Regions from separate parts of the Homo sapiens genome. Here region 2 is linked to region 1. Evidence: fine-mapped expression QTL. A gene starts in region 1. The other region holds a variant in brackets. All regions are shown on one strand. Distances are from middle to middle. Region 1 holds the start of ARHGAP5 (Rho GTPase activating protein 5). Region 2 overlaps ARHGAP5 (Rho GTPase activating protein 5).

Region 1 (5,233 bases):
ATAAATGAGATTTCAAGTCTTCCCTGCCTCCAGTATCATGTCCTATAACTGAACATTACACCTTTTTAACGTTTTCTTTAGAAGCCCTGATTTATTTGGCTTTGGTTTATGTTGATACATGTCCATGATTATTAAAATTTCTGATTATTTAGGACATAATTTTTAAGGTATCTTTAGGGTGTACACTCTATAGTACTTAACATCTTATTCAGGTTATGACTTTGAACTGCATCATTATAACACTAAAAAGCAACCTTGGCTAACTTCAGTACCTTACGTAACATAAGAAATAAAGAATAACTTGAACTTAAAATACTTTTTATATGTTTACTTCGGGTATTCTTAAGGGCTTTCAGTACAAAGATAAAAACATGCGTTGGAATGCATCAACATTCCAACTTACATAAGTGGTGTAGATACCTATGGCATTAGTACCACATTTTGATGGTTGGACCACCCACCAAATTCCCTTCTCTCCTTTTTTACTTCTTTTTCTTTCTGTTTGCTTTCCTTGCAAGTTTCCTTCCGCATCCTTCTTTCCCACCTACAATTTGTAACTGAAAGAAAGAAGTAGCTACAGACCTTACCTAACCTACTCTTAACCTACTTGGTAGGTAGGGTTCAGATGCAAGGGAGTGGCTCGAATAAAGCATTTTAGTTATGCCTTTTAGAAATTAGGGAGCAAGAGATATATAGAAAAATTAGAAATGTCTCTTCTACCTTTATTAAGTCTACCTTTGAGAAATATGAAGGGCAGGAAGACGGAAAAACGAACAGAACTTCTGCTGGAATATTGTGACAAATTTACTGACAAATATTTTCTAATAGATTTTTACCAACAGGCAGTTTTTGTTTTCTTTACTGACAGACCGTAAATGTACTTCTGGTTGGCAGCAGCTGCATCATTATAACACAAAAGCAACCTTGGCTAACTTCAGTACCTTATGTAACATAAGAAATAAAGAATAACTTGAATTTAAAATACTTTTTATATGTTTACTAACATTAAACTATTTTCAATGCAGGAAATAAATATTTCCCCAAAGAGGAATCCCCCCTCAATTACTTTCTTTCAGACTTAACAAATTGGAGTAGATGTGGTTTTGCTCATTCTTTTATCTGCTGGCAACTATTTTAAGTCTCCTGTGCAAGGCAGATTCCGATGACCTCGGGAAAGTCACAGGACCTCAGTTTCTTCAATGGTAAAAGCAAAGGCAGTGGTTTCTACCGTCCTTTCTCACTGCACCATTCAGCGTCAGTGCCCTCATGAGAAACACACCCAAAGCCCAGTGTGCTCTACCCCAAAACTTGTGAAATTTCTAGAGTCTCAAAAAAGTGAATATGTTTAAGGCAGTATAATAAAAGCCAGGTGGACGACAGTTCCTAAAGTTAGGCTGGTAGTGGCGTGAACAGGGGTCTTTTGGGCCACCCTGAGACCCGCCCCACGGGGCTTCTCGATCCACGTCTTGGCTTCTCGCTCCACTTTCACAGAACGTACTGAATCAGGGGCCTGCATCCCCGTGCCGTGCCGAGCCGACGGAGAAATGGACTCCTCTTCTCGCTCCTGTGGAGTTTCGTCTTCTGGGTGAGTGTGGCACCGGGTCCTGGGCGGGTGATGTCTGTAGTTGGCGAGCGATCCTCAGCCAGAAAACTGGCTGCGCACACAGGCGCAGACACGCGAACATGTTCCTGCGAACGAGCTTGGGCGCATGTTTTCCTCCCTTGCTTTCTTTAATGCTCAGAGACCATAAGGGGATTTATCGAGAAGCATTCGGTGCCCATGCCCGGTTTGGAACCGCGAGCACAATATCTGGTTCCTTTGCAGTACGGTGGTTTGCTCTTGAGTTACGACCAGAAACCGGAACAGAAGGAAAGGGAGAAGCAGGGGAGGTTCGGGGACGACGGCGCTCCGGGCAGTAAGGCAGTAGCTTCCAAAGCGTGGAGGATGGGACTGAGGAGGAGCAGAATACGGAGAAAGAGGGAAGCTGAGGAAAAATACTCACGCCAATGGGTAAAAGGGAAAAGGTGAGAAGGAATGGAGTAGGGGAGGGAACCAATGGTGGGAGAGGCGGAGGAAGAAGGGGGAGGGGTAGAAGCCAATGGGGGAGTGGAGGGGAGGGAGAAGCAGAGGGGAGGAGGGAGCGGGGACGCGAGCGAGGACGCGGCCCCGCGCGCTCGTCCCCCTCCCTCCGACTGGATAGCTCGCGCCTTCCCAGGCTCCCGGGAGACGAGGGCAGGGGCGGGGCCGTGCCGGGTGCGCGGCGCGGGAGGCGTCGCGAGGTGAAGGGGCGGGGACGGGGGATTGTGGGGAGGGCAGCGCGGGTTCGCGCGCGCGCGCGCGTCCCGTCCAGGCTGCGCCGCCGCGCCGCCGCTCCGCCCCCGGTCGGGTGTGTGGCTGCGCGCGCCGGGAGAGATGCTGAGGTAAAGTTCGGGAGAGAGGGAGAGAAATCCGTCAGCGCGAGGGAGCCCGAGTGGCCGCCATTACTGAGCCCGGCGCGGCGGCGGGCGCTGGGGAAGGGGGGAGGGACGGGCCGCCGCTGGTGGCGGGGAGGGAGGGAGGGAGGGTGGGTGAGCTGGCTGCGGGAGCCGTGGGGCTCAGGGTTTCGGGGCGTGTGTGTCGGGGAGGGCGGGGGGAGGTGGCTGAAGGGACGCGCCGCTCGGTGAGCGCGCCGAGGAAGAGAGGCGAGCGGAGAGTGGAGGAGGAGGCGGCGGCGGCGGGAGCGGTCCCCAGGAATGTCGCTGCCGCCGCCACCGCCGGGGCCGCTGCCGTTGAGGAGGAGACGGAGGAGACCGACGTTGTTAGGTAGGACCTTGCGGACCCCGCTCCTCCAAGCCTGCCTGCCCCCTCCCGGACGGGGACCCTCCTGCGGCTAGCTGCCCCGCTCGGTCGCCGCTGCCGGTTGTAACCAGTTGAAGGGGCTGGGGCCCCGCGGCCGCCGAGGGGAGCCTGGCGCTGCGCTCGGTTTTCGCAGGCCGGGCGGGCAGCAGCTGCAGCGTTAGGGATACGTTCGGCGTGAAGGGCAGAGAGGCCGGGGGAGGGGGTGCTTTCTCCACAGGTGACGGGGCCAGGGTCGGCGGAGGCCTGATGCTGGCCGGGGATCGCCGGCCCCGCCAGGCGTCCGCTCTCGCCCGCCGCCTCACTTGCTCGAGTCTCGGGTGGTCCGTCGAGAGGGGAGGTGGCGGTGTCCGTTGGCCGGGTTGCTGCTGTTAACGAGTTCCACCTGGAAAGGGTACACGGGGCGGGTGCAGATTCGCGGAAACACAGTCTCGGTTGCAAACTTAAACGCCTTGTAGGGGGGATCGGCCCTTTCACTTTCCCTCATCTCCTCGACTCCTCCCTGGGTTCTCTTCACCAATTTTCCATCTGCTTTGAAGCTTGGAGTAAGATATGAGAAGTTGCACTGCGCATCCAGAGCCCAGAGTCCTATGGGCTGACTGCGACTGGGTTGAGGCTTTGATACTGAGTTTTCGCTAGAATAACCTCCAGATTCTTCCTCTCTTTCCACTAAAGAAAAGTATCGGGGTGGGGGTGGGGAGCCGCGCGGGAGCGCGCGCGCACTTATCCACACAGAAATACTCCCTCTCACCCTCCCTCTTCAGCGTTATTAGAAATGCAAGAGAGCTGGAGGCTCGGGGTGTAGCTGAGGTTGAAAGGTGCACGGAAGTAAGGGCAAACTGTTATTAGGCCGTTTAGTAAAATCCCGAAAAAGTTGTAGGGGAGACGCTTATACTTCTACCATGTGATAGAAATTCGGATTTGGCCATCGCTTAATAAATGGGAATTCAAATATTTTGAGATAGAGCAAGATAGGCATATAGATGGGTTTGTGCTTACGTTTTAAGTTTAAATTCTTATCGATCATTTATTTTTTCCTTTGTGATAGGCAGGAAACTGAATTTTTTTTTAAATGTTCAGGTGTAAAACAGCAAAATGCTTCGCTGTATTTACTAGTACTTGCTTATGTTGCTTTCTACAGGTAGGGGCGGGGGGCGAGTTTGTCAATTCCACTTAAATCCAGAACCAGTATTCAGTTAGAATGTTAGGTGGTGTTTATCCGCATGAAGGATCTCGTTCACTTCATGGGAGCTTGCTCTACATTTCCACTTAAAATGGTTCTCCTAACAAAAATTTCATCTAGATGCAGCGATTAGACATTTGGAATAATGTTTGGTTTAAAAATACGTTAATGAAACCTTTTGCTGTCAATTCTAGTTTATTTGTACTGTAATACGATAAAACGGTATTCTTATTCAGTGTTTGTAGATAAGTATTACTAACCGTCTAGGTAACCTACTAGATAGTTTCTTGAGTAAGATTTTGCTTTCATTTTAAATTCCTTTCTCATTTTTTGCTTTCATCTATCCTTTGTATACTAATTGACCTCCATTACCTTTATCTGTAGTACAAAGAGCGGTAAGTATGTGTCACCAAAAACTTGCAAAGACACTGGAGCAATTTATGACTAAACGCACTGGAGTGAAAGGCTGCGCATACCTATGCTTGTAACTTTCAAGAAATAGCACTATTGATCTAATTGACTTAAAGCAGAATCAGACGGTACAGATGATTAAATAACTATTGATTTGGTTGTCTTGTGTAGGCTGTGTTTTTAAACCTAGATCAACATGTCTTATTTTGCCATTCTTTGTACATTAATTATTAAGAGTACTGGGGAGTGAGGTGGGTTACACTTTGATGTAAGAATTGCGGCAGAATTCTGTTATCTTTATGAGTTTTGTAGTGTCCCTCCCCATTTAAACGACCTTAGCAATTTTTAAAATGTGTTGCAAAATTATTACCTTAATTCTGTCACAAGATACTTATCCTAAATGTTTTGAAAACCGTCTCCCCTTCTTATTTGTGTTTGAAAAGCATATTAGCACAGTCATTTTTTTGGAGAGTTATTTTGACCTTGAAAGTTAAGATTATTTAAGGAATGAATATTGTATTTGCATTCCTTTTTTGGATTTGAAGTAGCGATAATAAGTTTTCTAACTCACTTTTTTTAATTGAAGAAAAAGTTAGGTCTCATAAAGACTTTACTAAACTTTACCAACATTGGCAGGATGTAAGATGAGTGTTGGCCTTTAGTGGTCACTTCTTAAATATGAAATGGCATAATAGAGATTTTCTTGGTAGCTACAGAATAAGTTTTGTCGCAACTGTAGTTTCCATAGATACTATTTTAAGAACTATTTATTTGGGTTGTATGGTCCACAGTTTTTTCTTTGC
Region 2 (5,233 bases), 55 kb after region 1:
ATATGTAATAAAATATATATATATGACCACATATCTTAAGCAGCTTAAGTGATCATCTTATATTTCCAATTTACCTAGTAAATTTGTTTGTTGAATCCCTTGCATTCATAAGGGATTTTTTTTTTTTTTTTTTTTGAGATGGAGTCTCACTGTGTCCCCCAGGCTGGAGTGTAGTGGTGGGATCTCGGCTCACTGCAACCTCTACCGCCCAGGTTCAAGTGATTCTCCTGCCTCAGACTCCTGAGTAGCTGGGATTACAGGTGCCTGCTATCACACCAGGCTAATTTTTTGGGTTTTTTTTTTTTTTTAATAGAGAAGGGGTTTCATCATGTTGCCAGGCTGGTCTGGAACTCCTGACCTCCAGTCATCCTTCCACCTCGGCCTCCCAAGGTGCTGGGATTACAGGTGTGAACCACCATGCCCAACCTGGCATTGATTGATTGATTGATTGATTGATTGATTTTGAGATGGAGTCTCGCTTTGTCGCCCAGTCTGGAGTGCAGTGGCGCGATCTCAGCTCACTGCAACCTCCGCCTCCTGGGTTCAAACGATTCTCCTGCTTCAGCCTCCTGAGACTACAGGCACGTGCCACCACACCCCGCTGATTTTTGCATTTTTAGTAGAGATGGGATTTCACCATATTGGCCAGGCTGGTCTCAAACTCCTGGCCTTGTGATCCACCTGCCTCGGCCTCCCAAAGTGCTGGGATTACAGGCATGAGCCACCGCACCCAGCCTGTTTTCATTTTCTCACATTTTTCAAAATTTTGGGACCTTTAGAAATGTTACAAGAATAGTATGATTGAGCATTTGTTTACCCTTCTCTAGATTCACCGAGTAAACTTTTTACCACAGTTCTCCAGCTTTTTGGGAGGCTGGTGGGAGGTGCTGAACAATGTGAAATTCAGTTAAAAACGGCATGACACTTCACCTCCAAGTCATTTAGCATAGATTTCCCCACTAACAAGAACATTCTCTTCACATAACTGCAAAATAAATACATGTTTAGGAAATTTAATATTGATACAATTCTATTGTCTAATATAATGTCTGTAATCAAATTCTCCCAGTTGTCTCAACGGTGTCCTCTTAGAGCTTTTTTGTTGTATCAATCCAAGGTCCCAGCAAGAATCATGTATTACTTTTCTTGTCATACTTCTTTTTTTTTTTTTTTTTAGGTTTGTCTTTATTTTATTTTATTTTTGCATTTCTAAGATTTGTATTAATTGTGTTAATTTTGTTAAAATCAATTTATAATTGTATTAAAAGATACATAACGTAAAATGTGTCATGTTAACCATTTTGAAATATACATTTCAGTAGTAAATACATTCACATTGTTGTGCACCCAATCTCTAGAACTTTTGCATTTGGAAAAACTGAAACTGTATTTTTATGAAACGCCAACCCCCCCATTTCTCCCTTCCTCCAGCCACTGGCAACCACCATTTCATGTTCTTTTTGTTTGTTTGTTTTTGTTTTTGTTTTTTGTTTTTTGTTATTATTATACTTCAAGTTTTAGGGTACATGTGCACAACGTGCAGGTTTGTTACATATGTATACATGTGCCATGTTGGTGTGCTGCACCCATTAACTGGTCATTTAGCATCAGGTATATCTCCTAATGCTATCCCTCCCCACTCCCCCAACCCCACAACAGTCCCCGGTGTGTGATGTTCCCCTTCCTGTGTCCACGTGTTCTCATTATTCAGTTCCCACCTATGAGTGAGAACATGCGGTGTTTGGTTTTTTGTCCTTGCGATAGTTTGCTGAGAATGATGGTTTCCAGTTTCATTGATGTCCCTACAAAGGACATGAACTCATCATTTTTTATGGCTGCATAGTATTCCATGGTGTATATGTGCCACATTTTCTTAATCCAGTCTGTCCTTGTTGGACATTTAGGTTGGTTCCAAGTCTTTGCTATTGTGAATAGTGCCGCAATAAACATACAGGTGCATGTGTCTTTATAGCAGCATGATTTATAATCCTTTAGGTATATACCCAGTAATGAGATGGCTGGGTCAAATGGTATTTCTAGTTCTAGATCCCTGAGGAATCGCCACACTGACTTCCACAATGGTTGAACCAGTTTAGAGTCCCACCAACAGTGTAAAAGTGTTCCTATTTCTCCACATCCTCTCCAGCACCTGTTGTTTCCTGACTTTTTAATGATTGCCACTCTAACTGGTGTGAGATGGTATCTTATTGTGGTTTTGATTTGCATTTCTCTGATGGCCAGTGATAGTGAGCATTTTTACATGTGTTTTCTGGCTGCATAAATGTCTTCTTTTGAGCAGTGTCTGTCCATGTCCTTTGCCCACTTTTTGATGGGGTTGTTTGTTATTTTCTTGTAAATTTGTTTGAGTTCATTATAGATTTTGGATATTAGCCCTTTGTCAGATGAGTAGGTTGTGAAAATTTTCTCCCATTTTGTAGGTTGCCTGTTCACTCTGATGGTAGTTTCTTTTGCTGTGCAGAAACTCTTTAGTTTAATTAGATCCTATTTGTCAATTTTGTCTTTTGTTGCCATTGCTTTTGGTGTTTTAGACATGAAGTCCTTGTCCATGCCTATGTCCTGCATGGTAATGCCTAGGTTTTCTTCTAGGGTTTTTATGGTTTTAGGTCTAACATTTAAGTCTTTAATCCATCTTGAATTGATTTTTGTGTAAGGTGTAAGGAAGGGATCCAGTTTCAGCTTTGTACATATGGCTAGCCAGTTTTCCCAGCACCATTTATTAAATAGGGAATCCTTTCCCCATTGCTTGTTTTTGTCAGGTTTGTCAAAGATCAGATAGTTGTAGATATGTGGCATTATTTCTGAGGGCTCTGTTCTGTTCCATTGGTCTGTATGTCTGTTTTGGTACCAGTACCATGCTGTTTTGGTTACTGTAGCCTTGTAGCATAGTTTGAAGTCAGGTAGTGTGATGCCTCCAGCTTTGTTCTTTTGACTTAGGATTGACTTGGCGATGCAGGCTCTTTTTTGGTTCCATATGAACTTTAAAGTAGTTTTTTCCAATTCTGTGAAGAAAGTCATTGGTAGCTTGATGGGGGTGGCATTGAATCTATAAATTACCTTGGGCAATATG[G/A]CCATTTTCACGATATTGATTCTTCCTACCCATGAGCATGGAATGTTCTTCCATTTGTTTGTATCCTCTTTTATTTCCTTGAGCAGTGGTTTGTAGTTCTCCTTGAAGAGGTCCTTCACATCCCTTGTAAGTTGGATTCCTGGTATTTTATTCTCTTTGAAGCAATTGTGAATGGGAGTTCACTCATGATTTGGCTCTCTGTCTGTTATTGGTGCATAAGAATGCTTTTGATTTTTGCACATTGATTTTGTATCCTGAGACTTTGCTGAAGTTGCTTATCAGCTTGAGGAGATTTTGGGCTGAGACAATGGGGTTTTCTAGATATACAATCATGTCATCTGCAAACAGGGACAGTTTGACTTCCTCTTTTTCCTAATTGAATACCCTTTATTTCCTTCTCCTGCCTGATTGCCCTGGCCAGAACTTCCAACTCCGTGTTGAATAGGAGTGGTGAGAGAGGGCATCCCTGTCTTGTGCCCGTTTTCAAAGGGAATGCTTCCAGTTTTTGCCCATTCAGTATGATATTGGCTGTGGGTTTGTCATAGATAGGTCTTATTATTTTGAGATACATCCCATCAATACCTAATTTATTGAGAGTTTTTAGCATGAAGGGTTTTTGAATTTTGTCAAAGGCCTTTTCTGCATCTATTGAGATAATCATGTGGTTTTTGTCTTTGGTTCTGTTTATATGTTGGATTACATTTATTGATTTGCATGTATTGAACCAGCCTTGCATCCCAGGGATGTCCAATCAATAGAAAAAGAGGGAATCCTCCCTAACTCATTTTATGAGGCCAGCTTCATCCCGATACCAAAGCCTGGCAGAGACACAACTAAAAAAGGGAATTTTAGACCAATATCCTTGATGAACATCAATGCAAAAATCCTCAATAAAATACTGGCAAACCGAATCCAGCAGCACGTCAGAAAGCTTATCCACCATGATCAAGTGGGCTTGTCATACTTCTTTAGTCTTCTTTAATTTAGAATAGTTTTCTAATCTTGTGGGTATGTTTTCATGTCATGAATTTTTTCATGAAAAAATTCAAAGCCTTTTTTTGCAGAATATTCCTAAATTTTATTTGACTAGAAAGTAGTGACACATTTTAGTTCAATAAACTGAATTTATCATAATATATGTATCCCCCTCCCCACATGGAATTTTAAGAAACTCGTTTTTGATAAATTGAGAAAAGAAAATACTGCTTTTTGTCTTATTCCTGTAATGGCATTGTGCCTGAAATGTCAAGTATCACCGCAAAAAACTCTTGCTCTATTGATGTTACTTCATCCCTATCAGCTTTTTAGCATGTGAAAAATCTCACTTCACTTAGCTTAAGTGAAGCCCCATTAGTAATGCATCATTAAAAACAGCATGAACACATTTACTTCAGCTGTTGTTTTAAAACTCAAAATAGCCGGCCTATTGAACTATACAGTATCAGGGACAATATATTTTATGTCTTGTATCACACATACATACTCTAAACACAGCACAGAGTGGGCATTTAAGGAACATTAAATCTTGTTTGAAATAAAAATATCATCACAATGTCTCATCATAGTATGTCTTCATGTGTTTGTCTTTTGCTTATCCTAAGTGTATCTTTAAGTAGTTTGAGTAATTTATAGCCATTCCGTTTACTGTTGATGTCATTTATGCATGTCTGATTTATATTTGCTATTGGGCCTGAGCCATCACGTTTACAAGAATGACTCCCAGATCTTTATCTCTCACATTCCAGAGTGTTCTTATATTTCATTCTTATATTTAATTCTCCCAGTTGTCCAGGCCTCAGGTATCTCATTAATCTGTCTTTTTCACCCATTGTGCCCACATACCATTAATTGCCCATGCTTGTCCATTCCCAGCATTGTTTGTCTTAACATCTGTTTTACAGGGAAGACTCAGTATATAGCATTTATTTTGTTCCTTCCAATCCAGTTGTCTCATCACTCCCAAAGTTTTCCTATTAAAAAGTATTGAGTGCCTAGAAAGAAAAAATACCAAACTTTCATTGCCCAGGAATTGAGGCTTTTTTGGTTTAAATTATTTTAGTTGCTAGTCAGCAAACACTAATGCAAAAAATACATTTAACTGGAATGAAGGTAACTTAGAGAAGCTGAAAGCAACTCATCTATTGG

What was found. PIP is the estimated chance that this variant, and not a neighbour inherited with it, causes the effect.
Region 2: its variant is the best candidate, but not a certain one, in a credible set for the expression of ARHGAP5 in whole blood (INTERVAL, PIP 0.50).

Annotation. Positions count from the first base shown.
Region 1 is chr14:32,074,633-32,079,865 of GRCh38, forward strand. ARHGAP5 (Rho GTPase activating protein 5) reads left to right here and starts at 2,672. Exons shown (of 7, transcript NM_001030055.2): 1 at 2,672-2,803. It overlaps ARHGAP5-AS1 (ARHGAP5 antisense RNA 1 (head to head)), which reads right to left and starts at 2,067. Exons shown (of 1, transcript NR_027263.1): 1 at 787-2,067. RefSeq lists silencers at 2,093-2,352, 2,713-2,932, 2,731-3,025.
Region 2 is chr14:32,130,095-32,135,327 of GRCh38, forward strand. The region is part of intron 3 of ARHGAP5 (Rho GTPase activating protein 5); the gene reads left to right. Among named protein-coding and RNA genes, the nearest start is that of ARHGAP5, 55 kb to the left of the region's middle. The variant G/A (reference allele first, on the strand shown) is at 3,089.